Linked DNA regions of Homo sapiens: region 1 is linked to region 2. The links come from fine-mapping of genetic effects on gene expression. Tissue or cell type: whole blood. Region 2 holds a variant in brackets; the other region holds the start of a gene. All regions are shown on one strand. Distances are between the middles of the regions.

The links. PIP is the estimated chance that this variant, and not a neighbour inherited with it, causes the effect.
Region 1: CHSY1 starts here. The variant in region 2 is fine-mapped to the expression of CHSY1 in whole blood (TOPMed, PIP above 0.99).

Annotation. Positions count from the first base shown.
Region 1 is chr15:101,249,940-101,255,086 of GRCh38, forward strand. CHSY1 (chondroitin sulfate synthase 1) reads right to left here and starts at 2,109. Exons shown (of 3, transcript NM_014918.5): 1 at 1,198-2,109. The coding sequence starts at 1,517. RefSeq lists silencers at 1,094-1,523, 1,714-2,023, 2,194-2,573.
Region 2 is chr15:101,148,339-101,153,485 of GRCh38, forward strand. It overlaps LRRK1-AS1 (LRRK1 antisense RNA 1), which reads right to left and starts at 3,501. Exons shown (of 3, transcript XR_001751724.2): 1 at 3,382-3,501. The variant C/T (reference allele first, on the strand shown) is at 2,185.

The DNA of each region.
Region 1 (5,147 bases), 100 kb after region 2:
AGCCATTCAAGGGGCAGTCACTGAAGACCACTTTCACCTTCTTTCTCAGTCCTTTACTTTCTCCCTTAAAGGCAAGGGAGACCATATATGCTTTTCCCCTCACAACATCTAGTGCCTGAAAAATCTGACCAAGACTGCATTTAAAAACTGAAGTGTAAAGGTATTGGTTATAAGAACAAACAGCAACCAGCTTAGCCTGGCTCAGCACTGGCTGCTCTGAAATTTCATTACCAGACAACTGATGCTCTAAAACCATTCCCCACATTGGTTTGCTCTGTGGCTGGATAAGACCCAAACTTTATCCATACAGTAAGTGTCTCTATACTTCACACATATAGGGTTTCCATCAAATCCCTTTATCGAGTCTACAACCCTCTCCAACTTCAAATTCACTCCAATACAAATCTGATTCTAACCATGCCAGCCATTCCAAAATCATCTCCCTTCTAGAGACTACATTGGCTAATCCCTTTGTTAAACCTGAACACAATTCCAGCTGCTTTTATGACTCATTTGGCCAACTAGAGCCCAGTTACTGGATAACATGCATACACCACCAAGCTGAACTAATTAACACCAGAATGCAGTTTTCCACTGAATCTACCAAGGGCCAAGAACTGCTTTTCCCCAAGGTTCTCTCTCTCTGTACTCAACAGACTGGTGTGGTCCAATATGCTGCGGGCATTCTCTTTCATTTATAGGAGTGCCTCCAACTGCGAAATGTGAGAGTATGATGTGGAAAGGTTCTAGAACTAGATTAACGTACACGGGCTCCAGCTTTGCAAGGACAAAGGTGCACATTTTAGGGAATCCAGTATCAGCCCCAACTGCCTCCACTATCAGGTACTGTGCTATGAGTTTTCCAACATTATGAGGGAGACCCGATCTGTCGGGCCCTTCTAACGAGAAGCTTCGATTTGCAAAGGCTAAAGTGCCTTCATCAGGGTGAGAGGTACACCCAGCGAGGCCACACTAGTCCATCTGACCCCAAAGGCCATGTTCCTGAGCGCCGCGCTCACCATCCCGCCTCTGATCTTTTCTCCCTCGGCCCGGCGTCTCCCGAGAGGCAACCCGATCCCGCCGGAAGCCCAAGAAGGGCCTAGGAAGCGGGCGGAGGCGAGAGCCAGGAGAGCACCCGGGATGCCGGCCGCCGGGATGCCGGACGCAGGAGGCGGTGCCCGGGGAGCAGGGGCTCACCTGTAGGCGGCCACGGCCCGAGTCTGCAGGTATTTCTGGGCGGTCATGACTCCCACGAAGAGAAAGTTCCTGTCGCGCGGGCCGCCATCTGGGTCCGAGCCGGGCGGCCAGAGCTGCGCCCCGCGCGCATCGCCGCGCGCCCCGCCGGCCTGGGAAGCCGCCGCCTGCCCGGACCGGCAGCCCTCGGGGCTGGCGCGGCGCCGTGGGCCCGCTCGCTTCAGCTCGGAAGCCCGGGGCAGGACGAGCCGCGAGGCCAGCACGAAGCCCAGGACGAGCCCGAGCAGCACGCTGAGCCAGGCGCGCCGGCCGCGCGCGGCCATGCCCGCGCCGCTCCGCCCGCCGGGCCGCCGCCGCAGGCTCCGCGCGCCCTCAGCCCGCTGCCCCCGCCCGCGGAGGCCAGCCCGCCCTAGCGCCGCGAGGCCCGGCCCGGGCAGCGCCGCCGCCGCCGCGGGCCCGCCGCGCCCATCGCGGCCCCCGAGCCGCCCGCAGGCCCCGCGCCGGCGCTTTGTTCCGCACGCCCGCCCCCGCCGCCGCGGCCTGCGCCTTTAAGAGGGGACCATGCCCGGCGCGCGCTAGCGGCGGCTCGGGCGCGAGGTGGCGGCGGCTCCTCCCGCTCGCGCGCGGGGACGCGGGGCCGGCACGACGGCGACGACGGCGGCGGCAGACGAGTCCGGGCTCCCGTCCCGCCCTGCCCGCGTCCTCCGGCTGGCTGGGCTCGGTTCGCACGGCGCCTGTCCCCGTCCTCTTCGTAGCCGGCGCCGCCGCCGCAGCTGCACATCCTCCGGCTTAGCTCGCCATTGCAACAGGAGCCCCTCACGTCACGCACGGCGCGTTATGAAGTGGCCCCGCCGGCGGCGAGCCGTGGCCCCTCTCGGGATCCGTCCGCGCCGCGCGATTGGCGCAAAAGTGAATGAGGGGCGGTTCACGTGGCCGAAGTTTGACCAAAAAAAAAAAAAGCCCTCTCGGGCGCCCCGCCCGCGCGGTCTGCGACTGGAGCTGGCGGGCGGAGGGGGCGTGGGCCCCCGCCCGGCGCCCGCGGGGCCGGAGCTGCCCGTGATCCGCACCTAGCACCCGGCGCAAGGGCGTCCCCGCGAGGACGGCCGCTTCCCGCACCGCGGCGCCCGGGCGCGAATCTCGGGAGCCAGCCTTGCAGTGGGGGCTTCTCGGCCCCCAGACTCCACGCTGCGCACGTTCCTCCCGCACGGGCCGTCCTCGCTGCACCCCACGGCCACGCCCTTCCTGCCGCCGGGCCGGCCCCGCGCTCCCGGCCCCGCGCTCCCGACCACACTGCAGCTTTGTCCGCAGTCCCGCGGCCGCACGCAGGGAACAGCCGTCCCGGAGCCCTGGGGACGTGCGCGCCTGCGAGTGGACCGTGAATTCAGTTACCTTGTTCCCTGTTGCTAGTTTCTACGCTAAATAAGAAGAAGAAGAAGAAAAAGCCATCTTTAATACTTAAGGTCCACGCTTCTCATACAGTACTAGCATTTAATGGATCTCGAAGACAAGGAAAATGAAGTTAATGCCCTGGATGGTAAACCCTACTTTCATTTACATACTGTGTGGGCAGATAGCCGGCTAGTACCCCCAGCCTGGGACTTTGTCCCTACTTTAATATAGTCCGTCTGTAAAAGTGCCGTGGATTTCTAAAGACGGATTTTGGGTCCCAGATCCTCTACTCTGGATTTTAAGTTTTATACATTTCCTCTGCAATACTTCAGCTAAGGCAGCAAAAGCGGAGGTCTCCATACAACGAAAGTTTGTGTAGAGTTTCAGTCTTGTTACTTAGTCACCAGTATATTGGGGTTTTCTAATGAAACTTTTGAAGGGCAAAGTGTTTCCCTGGGCCTGAGAAGTTACCTGCATTGAATCAAATAAACACATGCCTGGGGCAATCCTTGGATCTTTCTTCATTGTTGACCAAATGGTTGAAATACTATCACACAGTTTAAAATGCCTGTGGGAGCTTCAGATACCTTCTCGGCACCTGAATGGTGGTCACTCTTGTTTATTCTTTGGATATTACCACTTTCTTTGACACTTGTGATTTATATTAAAAATAGTTCATTACCTACCTTCCCACAGAGCCCCTCCCTAAGGGGTGATCCACATCTAAAAATAAAATACTCATTATGCAGTGAATACAGGATTCCAGCAGTGGTCTTGGGAAAAATACAGAACATACAACCATGAATTACAGGCTCGAAAACCATCGAAAAAGGTTTCCACTAAGACCATAAACCACAAATGCCGAGGAGTCACCAGATCCCCCAAATTCAGCAGCCCCATCATTCACAGTGATTTACATGAAGTACGAATCTGGCCAGATTCAGATGTTCAATTTTGTAGCATATTCAACGATTTCAGTATTTTCTAACCTGCTTTAGACTTACCTAGTTTTCTTCGAAACTAGTGTCCAGTGAAAAGCTGGCCGGGCGCGGTGGCTCACGCCTGTAAACCCAGCACTCTGGGAGGCTGAGGCGGGCGGATCGCCTGAGGTCAGGAGTTCGAGACCAACCTGACCAACATGGAGAAACCCCGACTCTACTAAAAATACAAAATTAGCCGGGGGTGGTGGTGCATGCCTGTAATCCCAGCTACTCGGGAGGCTGAGGCAGGAGAATCGCTTGAACCCGGGAGGTGGAGGTTGCTGTGAGCCGAGATCGTGCCATTGCATTGCACTGCAGCCTGGGCGACAACAGCGAAACTCCGTCTCAAGGAAAAAAAAAAAAAAAGTATATAAATATCTGATGGGAATAATATTCTGAGGATGCCAAATATTTTGTCCTCCTCAATATCCTGGTTCCTAGTTGTCCCTCAGTTCCTAGGTTAACAGTCTCACCTGTCTCACCTGCAGGCTTAATGGGGGTCTTTCGTAATGTAGAAAGGATACCCTTTTCTTTGTAAAGGCTGAGCCTGAGGGCTTACAATTCCCTGGAGAAGGAGAGTAAGACATACGGGAACTCCCTCTGGGAGAAGAGGGATATGCCAGGCCAAGAGAGGGTTGGAAGGAGAAGAGAGAAACTGAGGTCCTGTAGAAGTCTGCCAGGGGCAGGGACCAATTCCGGCATGCAGCCTAGGAGCAGGAGGGCAAGCTCTAGCACATCTGGAAGGAGCAGCTGGATTGTTGAGCTGAGGCAGTTCTCCTGGGGAAGAATCCAAAAGTGTCCCAGTAAGGGGCCTGGCTCAGGAGACAAGGCTATCCTAAGTGGGGATTTCACAGCCAGTAGCAAATACCTGGAATCAAGAACTTCAGTGACAGCCAGAGACCCAAACAGCTGGACAGGACTGGTACCCCCAGTATGAAGGCCTGTCCCATGCCCAGCCCCACTAGTCAATACCAGCAAGGAGCCAGGGAGGACAACGAGGGTCTGGAACATCTGCCCCCAATGCACACACATGCGTCCTTCCCCACAGCCCCCTGGAGGCCAAGGCTGTCCTCATCCTAAAGCCCCCTCACCCTAAGTAATTTTTAAAGGTAAGGAGTAGGCAGGGTGATTCGCATTTATAGGGATTTCACTGCAGGGAGCTGAGGAAAGACTTTTCATGTTCCGGGCTTCTTGATTTCACTGTGCTACTGGCCTTCTCTGTTGAGGGAATCATTGACCATTTTTCTCATCATAAAAGAAGGGGAGGTATTAACTGTTACCAGGAACACTTGTAAGGAAGCCCTTAACTGTAGTTATTCCATGAAAGTCCCAATGGCACAGGAGTGGCCCAAGAGGTGGGCTGTGATGGATCAGGGATCAGGAGTGTGGGACCGAGTCTGAGCTCTGCGTGGAGTGAGTTCCACCTGGAGGGGCTCCGGGAGTCCGGCTCTGTCTCCAAATGAGTCTTTCTGCTGGATCACGTTAAACGGTCCTCCATAGTGATTCCAGACCAGTATTCAGAAATGTGTTCAAAAATCCCAGATCACTTAACTTCCCTTCTGTGTTCATGAGTGTGACTCTTTA
Region 2 (5,147 bases):
TTTCTTGACCTCTCTGTGCTTCAGTTTCCTCATCTGTAAAATGGGAGTAATGAGAGTGGCATCTACCACAGAGCTGGGATGGGGAAAGTCCTGTGTGAGCTATTTTTATTTTTGTTGTTGTTGTGGATGCTGGAGTGGGTGGAGGAGCCTCTGAGCCTGCACAGCTGGGAGGGGCAGTCCCAGGAAAGCGTCCGGAACCCTGCTGACCTTCGGAGCCCCCAGAACCCACTTCAGCGGAGGCAGGCGTGGAGGGCAGCGGTGTCGGGCTCTGACACCCTAGACGCTGTCCTCCCAGGAAGTGGTTTTGGTTTTATCCCACTTTTGGTCTGAGTGAGCAGACAGGCCCTTTTGGGCTCCTGTCCCCAAATAGCCTCCCACCCTGTATCTGAGGGAAAGTGAAACTGTCCACCCTCAGGTCCTGATCAGGTCCCTGCTGAGGCCCTGACCCCCCTCTGAGGTGCTCGGAAGAATGGGCTTGGATTCCGGCCAAGCACCCAGAGAAAGGTCAGCCGCGCTTGCTGGATGCGAGTGGGTCAGGGGCCCTGCTAGTGTGGGGACAATGGATCCCTCAGCCCTGGCCCGTGGGGCTCTGTCTGCCCATGGAAAGGCCCAGACCCCAGTGGGAAAGGTTCTGGGCTGGCGGCCTGGGGGTGCCCTGCACTGCCTGCCTGTCCTTGGGGCTTTATTGCCACTGGACTGGGCGTTTCTGTTGTTTCCCTGAGGGCACCTTTCTACCTACACCTCCAGCCCTCAGGGCCTGACCACCCTAGCTGGGCTTCCAGCCTGAACTGAGAGGCCCACCTTCCCAGGGCACCCTCTGGGCCTGACCAAGCCAGTCTTGCCTGCGACCCCTGAGAGGCCAAAGCAAGGCCCTGGGTACATGAGGCTTCCCGACTCTGCTTAGAGAGCACCGGTTGCTTCATTCCCCCCTACCTAAAGTGTGAGCTCTAAGATGGCAGAGGCAGGGTCTGAGACAGTCAGAGCCCCCATAGCTCCGTGCCAGGTCCCAGGTCCCCAGACCCAAGCCCACAGCAACAAGCACAGAAACCGGTGGTGTGGAAACAGTCCCCAGACAACCTTATCAGTCAGATAGCATAAAGCCTTCCTGTCTGCTCCAGCCTGGCCCCGTAAAAACAGAGCTGCTGATTAGAGCCTTCCAGACACCAAGACTGGAGCCCTTCACGGGCTGGAGAGACATTCTGGTGAGCTTTTCCTGCCCCACTCTATCTTTAAAAATTACGAGGGGTCAGGCACTGTGGCTCACGCCTGTAGTTCCAGCACTTGGGGAGGCCAAAGCAAGAGGACTGCTTGAAGCCGGGAGTTGAAGACCAGCCTGGGCAATATAGCAGGATGCCATCTCTAATAGATACATGTATTTGGGATTTTCCAAATTAGCACCTGTCCTTGAAAAGAAATTTGATGCTGTCTTTTTAAAACCATAAAAATATTCATCATTTACCCAGAAATTTCATTTATGAGAATGTAGCTTAAGGAAATAATGGAAAGGAAGGACTAAAGTACTAGTTAAAGCTACCCACTGCTGGGTCTGTCTAGAACATCTAACCTGACCCTGGAAATGACCCCATGCCCAACATCAAAAGGACGGCTAGGTTAGCGCACGGCAGCCCACCCGCACGGCTGTATTAGTGCACGGACGGCTGCTAAGGATGGCTATATTAGTACACGGCTGTATTATGCACTCGACGGGGTCCTGGATGGCTGTTAAGAATATAAGTGACCAAGGTACACAAGCGGCCTGTGCCCAGCGGGCGTGCAACGTGCCTGCATGTGACCAGGCATGAGGGCACATGTCAGGATGCTGGGATTGCAGCTCACACTCCCTCCTGGCCCCTTTTCTTGCTTTCATTCTTTTCTTTCTCTCTTCTTTCCTTTAACTGAGGCCACAAGGACTTCTGCCTGTCCTCAAGAGGCTGGGAAGACAGCCTCCGAGTGGCACCTTCTGGCACGTGGAGAGAGGAGGAAATGCATGAAACCACTTCCCAGCTTTCTTCCTCATTTGCAAACCCTTGCTCTTCCTCTCAGCTCCTGTGAACCCCAAAACAACAACAAAATAGCATCGTCGTCATCATCATCGTCACCATCGTCATTGTCGTCAAACCCAGAGCCAAGCTATACTTCCTCCCCAGTGAGTCCACGTTTCCCTGCAGGCCCTGCCCTGAGACC[C/T]CAGCTCCGGAGAGACCTGTCACTGGAAAGTGTCTCGGAAGCCAACTCCACCACTCGCTGGGGCTTTCCTTCCCTTCCTCAGGGGAGCAGAGGAGCTAATTGTCCAAAGGCCAAGCCACCTGCTGGGTTGCCCAAGGAATACAGGCCAGTCCAACCGGGGACAAGCACGTTAGACAGAAAAATAAAATTCCAGATCCAAAGGGGAAGCTGACAGCAGTGCATCAGGGGCACACCCACCCAGGGTGGACAGCAAAGTAGGCACAGGGGGCTCCACGGCAAGTCAGAGCTGAGTGTTCCTGGCAGGTGTGGGCCAGGAACTTGACCCAGAGCTCGCTACCCAAACATCCAAGTCACTGCCTGCTCTGGGTGAGGGGGTGCTTGGGACCACAGCTGGGGGAGGATCCTCAAGCACAAAACCAAAAAGCACCAACCCTAAGGACAAGATCGACCAGCCTGACCGCGTTACATTTATGAACTTCTGTTATCAAAAGACACCATAAAGGCCGGGTGCTACGGCTCATGCCTGTAATCCCAGCACTTTGGGAAACCAAAGCAAAGGGATCACTTCAGGCCAGGAGTTCAAGATCATCCTGGCCAACATGGCGAAACCTCATCTCTACTAAAAAATAAAAAATAATAAGAATAAATAAAAAATAAAAGTAAAAAAAGACGTCATAAAGAGGGAAAAGACAAGTCACAAGCTGACAATATTTCAACAATAATGAGCAACACAGAATTTGTATTCAAAATACAGAAAGAACCCCGCTAATCTAATAAGGAAAAGATAAACAATATAATAGGAAAATGAGCAAAAGACTCAGAGGGGCATTTACAAATGAGGAAACTCAAATTGCAAAGACGTGAAAAGCTGCTTAGCCTGAAATGCAAAAGAAAGTCAAGAGGAGAATGGGAAGCAACAGGAAATACATACCTGTCCTGAGAGGAAGCACATCTGCTGTCGGGCGTAACCACAGTGAAAACGCTGCACACGGGCACGAAAGGACAGAGAGTGTCTGTACAGCACGGTCCAAAACACAAAACACTGGCCATGGTCCAAAGAACCCTCAAAAGTAAACTCAACTATTTTTTAAACTGTACAGTCATTCAATGGAATCTAACATTCATTCAATGGACGCATGTGTCAAAAATCATAATTTTGAGCAACAGTGAGGAGAACACAGAATTTAAAAAGAATACCTGCAGCCAGCCAGAATGACCACCCGAAAGAGGCCTGCAGTCTCAGCAATCCGGGAGGCTGAGGCGGGAGGATCACTTGAGCCCAGGAATTTGAGACCAGCCTGGCCAACATACCAAGACTCCATCTCTACAGAAAAAAAAAAAAGAAAAAGAAAACTTAGAGGGTGTAGTGGCACATGGCCATAGTCCTAGCTACTCGAGAGGCTGAGACGGGAGGATCACTTGAGCCCAGGAGTTCCAGGTTGCAGTGAGCCAAGATTGTGCCCCTGCACTCCAGCCTGGGTGACAGAGAACGATCCCAAATCAAAAAATAGAGAAAGAAAAGAAAAATAACAAAAAGAATACCTTGAATCTGATCTTATTTATATAAAGTACAGAAATAAGAAAAACTCTATAATGCATTAATCTGAGATGCATATGTTCACAGATGGTAAAGGCATAAGTGTTCATTTCATGACTACTACTATTTATTTATTTATGTATTTAATTTTTTTGAGATGGAGTCTCACTCTGCTGCCCAGGCGGAGTGAATGGCGTGATCTCAGCTCACTGCAACCTCCGCCTCCCGGATTCAAGCAATCCTCCTGCCTCAGCCTCCCGAGTAGCTGGGACTACAGGCACGCACCACCACACCCAGCTAATTTTTGTATTTTCAGTAGAGACGGGGTTTCACCATGTTGGCCAGGCTGGTCTCGAACTCCTGACCTCAGGTGATTCACCCACCTCAGCCTCCCAAAGTGCTGGGATTACAGGCGTGAGCCACCGCACCTGGCCTACACTACTACTATTTAAACTGGACCTAAAATGATGTCTGTGCAGTATAAAACACCGCACCATTGTTTGTGATTGAAAAGGCTGAAATGACTTGTGTCCATCTGTAGGAACTGGCTCAATAAACAAAGATGCATTAAGGTTCATTGTGCAAAAGTTAAACAAAAACAACCACTCAGTAGAGGCTGTCTGCATAAACAGACCCGGGTATATTGACAAGTGTGAGAAATACAACCAAGCGTAGAACAGGCCGGGTCGCATGCTTTCCTCTTCTACAGGCAATGAGGAAAATAAGAACACTGTCTTGTTTGTCTTTGCCTGTTTTTGCTCACAAACCCAGGGTGACCGTTTGTCCTGTCTCAGTTGGTGCCTGCCTTTCTGGCACAACTTGATCACACCTTTCACTCTTAGCAAGGTCCTGGTTTGAAGGATGAATTACATGGGCCACCCTACTCAAAACCCACTTCACCTCCATCCCTAGCACACAGCTAGCCTGCATTTTCCCATCTGCCCTGCAGGGGTCTGGCCATGGGCACCAGCTCTAGGCAACGGCGTCTCAGTGGAAGTTACACCATGGCTCTCGGACCTGGACCGGAGAGCTCTGCCCTGTGAGATCCTTCCTCCTCCAGCTGTCTGGGCGCCAAGGCCCAGGGCAGCCTCGGAAGCCCTGAGCTGAAGCTGGCAGAGCCCCTGGCAGCCGGGTCCCGGAATGACTGTGGGAGCCCGGCCTCCCGTCCTCCCTGCCTGCCTCTGCTGACCTGCACTGGCTAGGATTTTTGGGGTGGGTAGAAATCAACTTCAATTGTTTTTGAGCCATCAGGCATTGGGGGGTCTATTTGTTACAGCAGTCACCCTAACTAATACAACTAATTTTATTTTATTTTATATTTATTTTATTTATTTATTTTATATTCTTACTAAAACACAAAATAAAGGTACAAACTTTTCAATATACTAATTTGTAGGATTTATGTATTAATTTGTAGGGTATATTT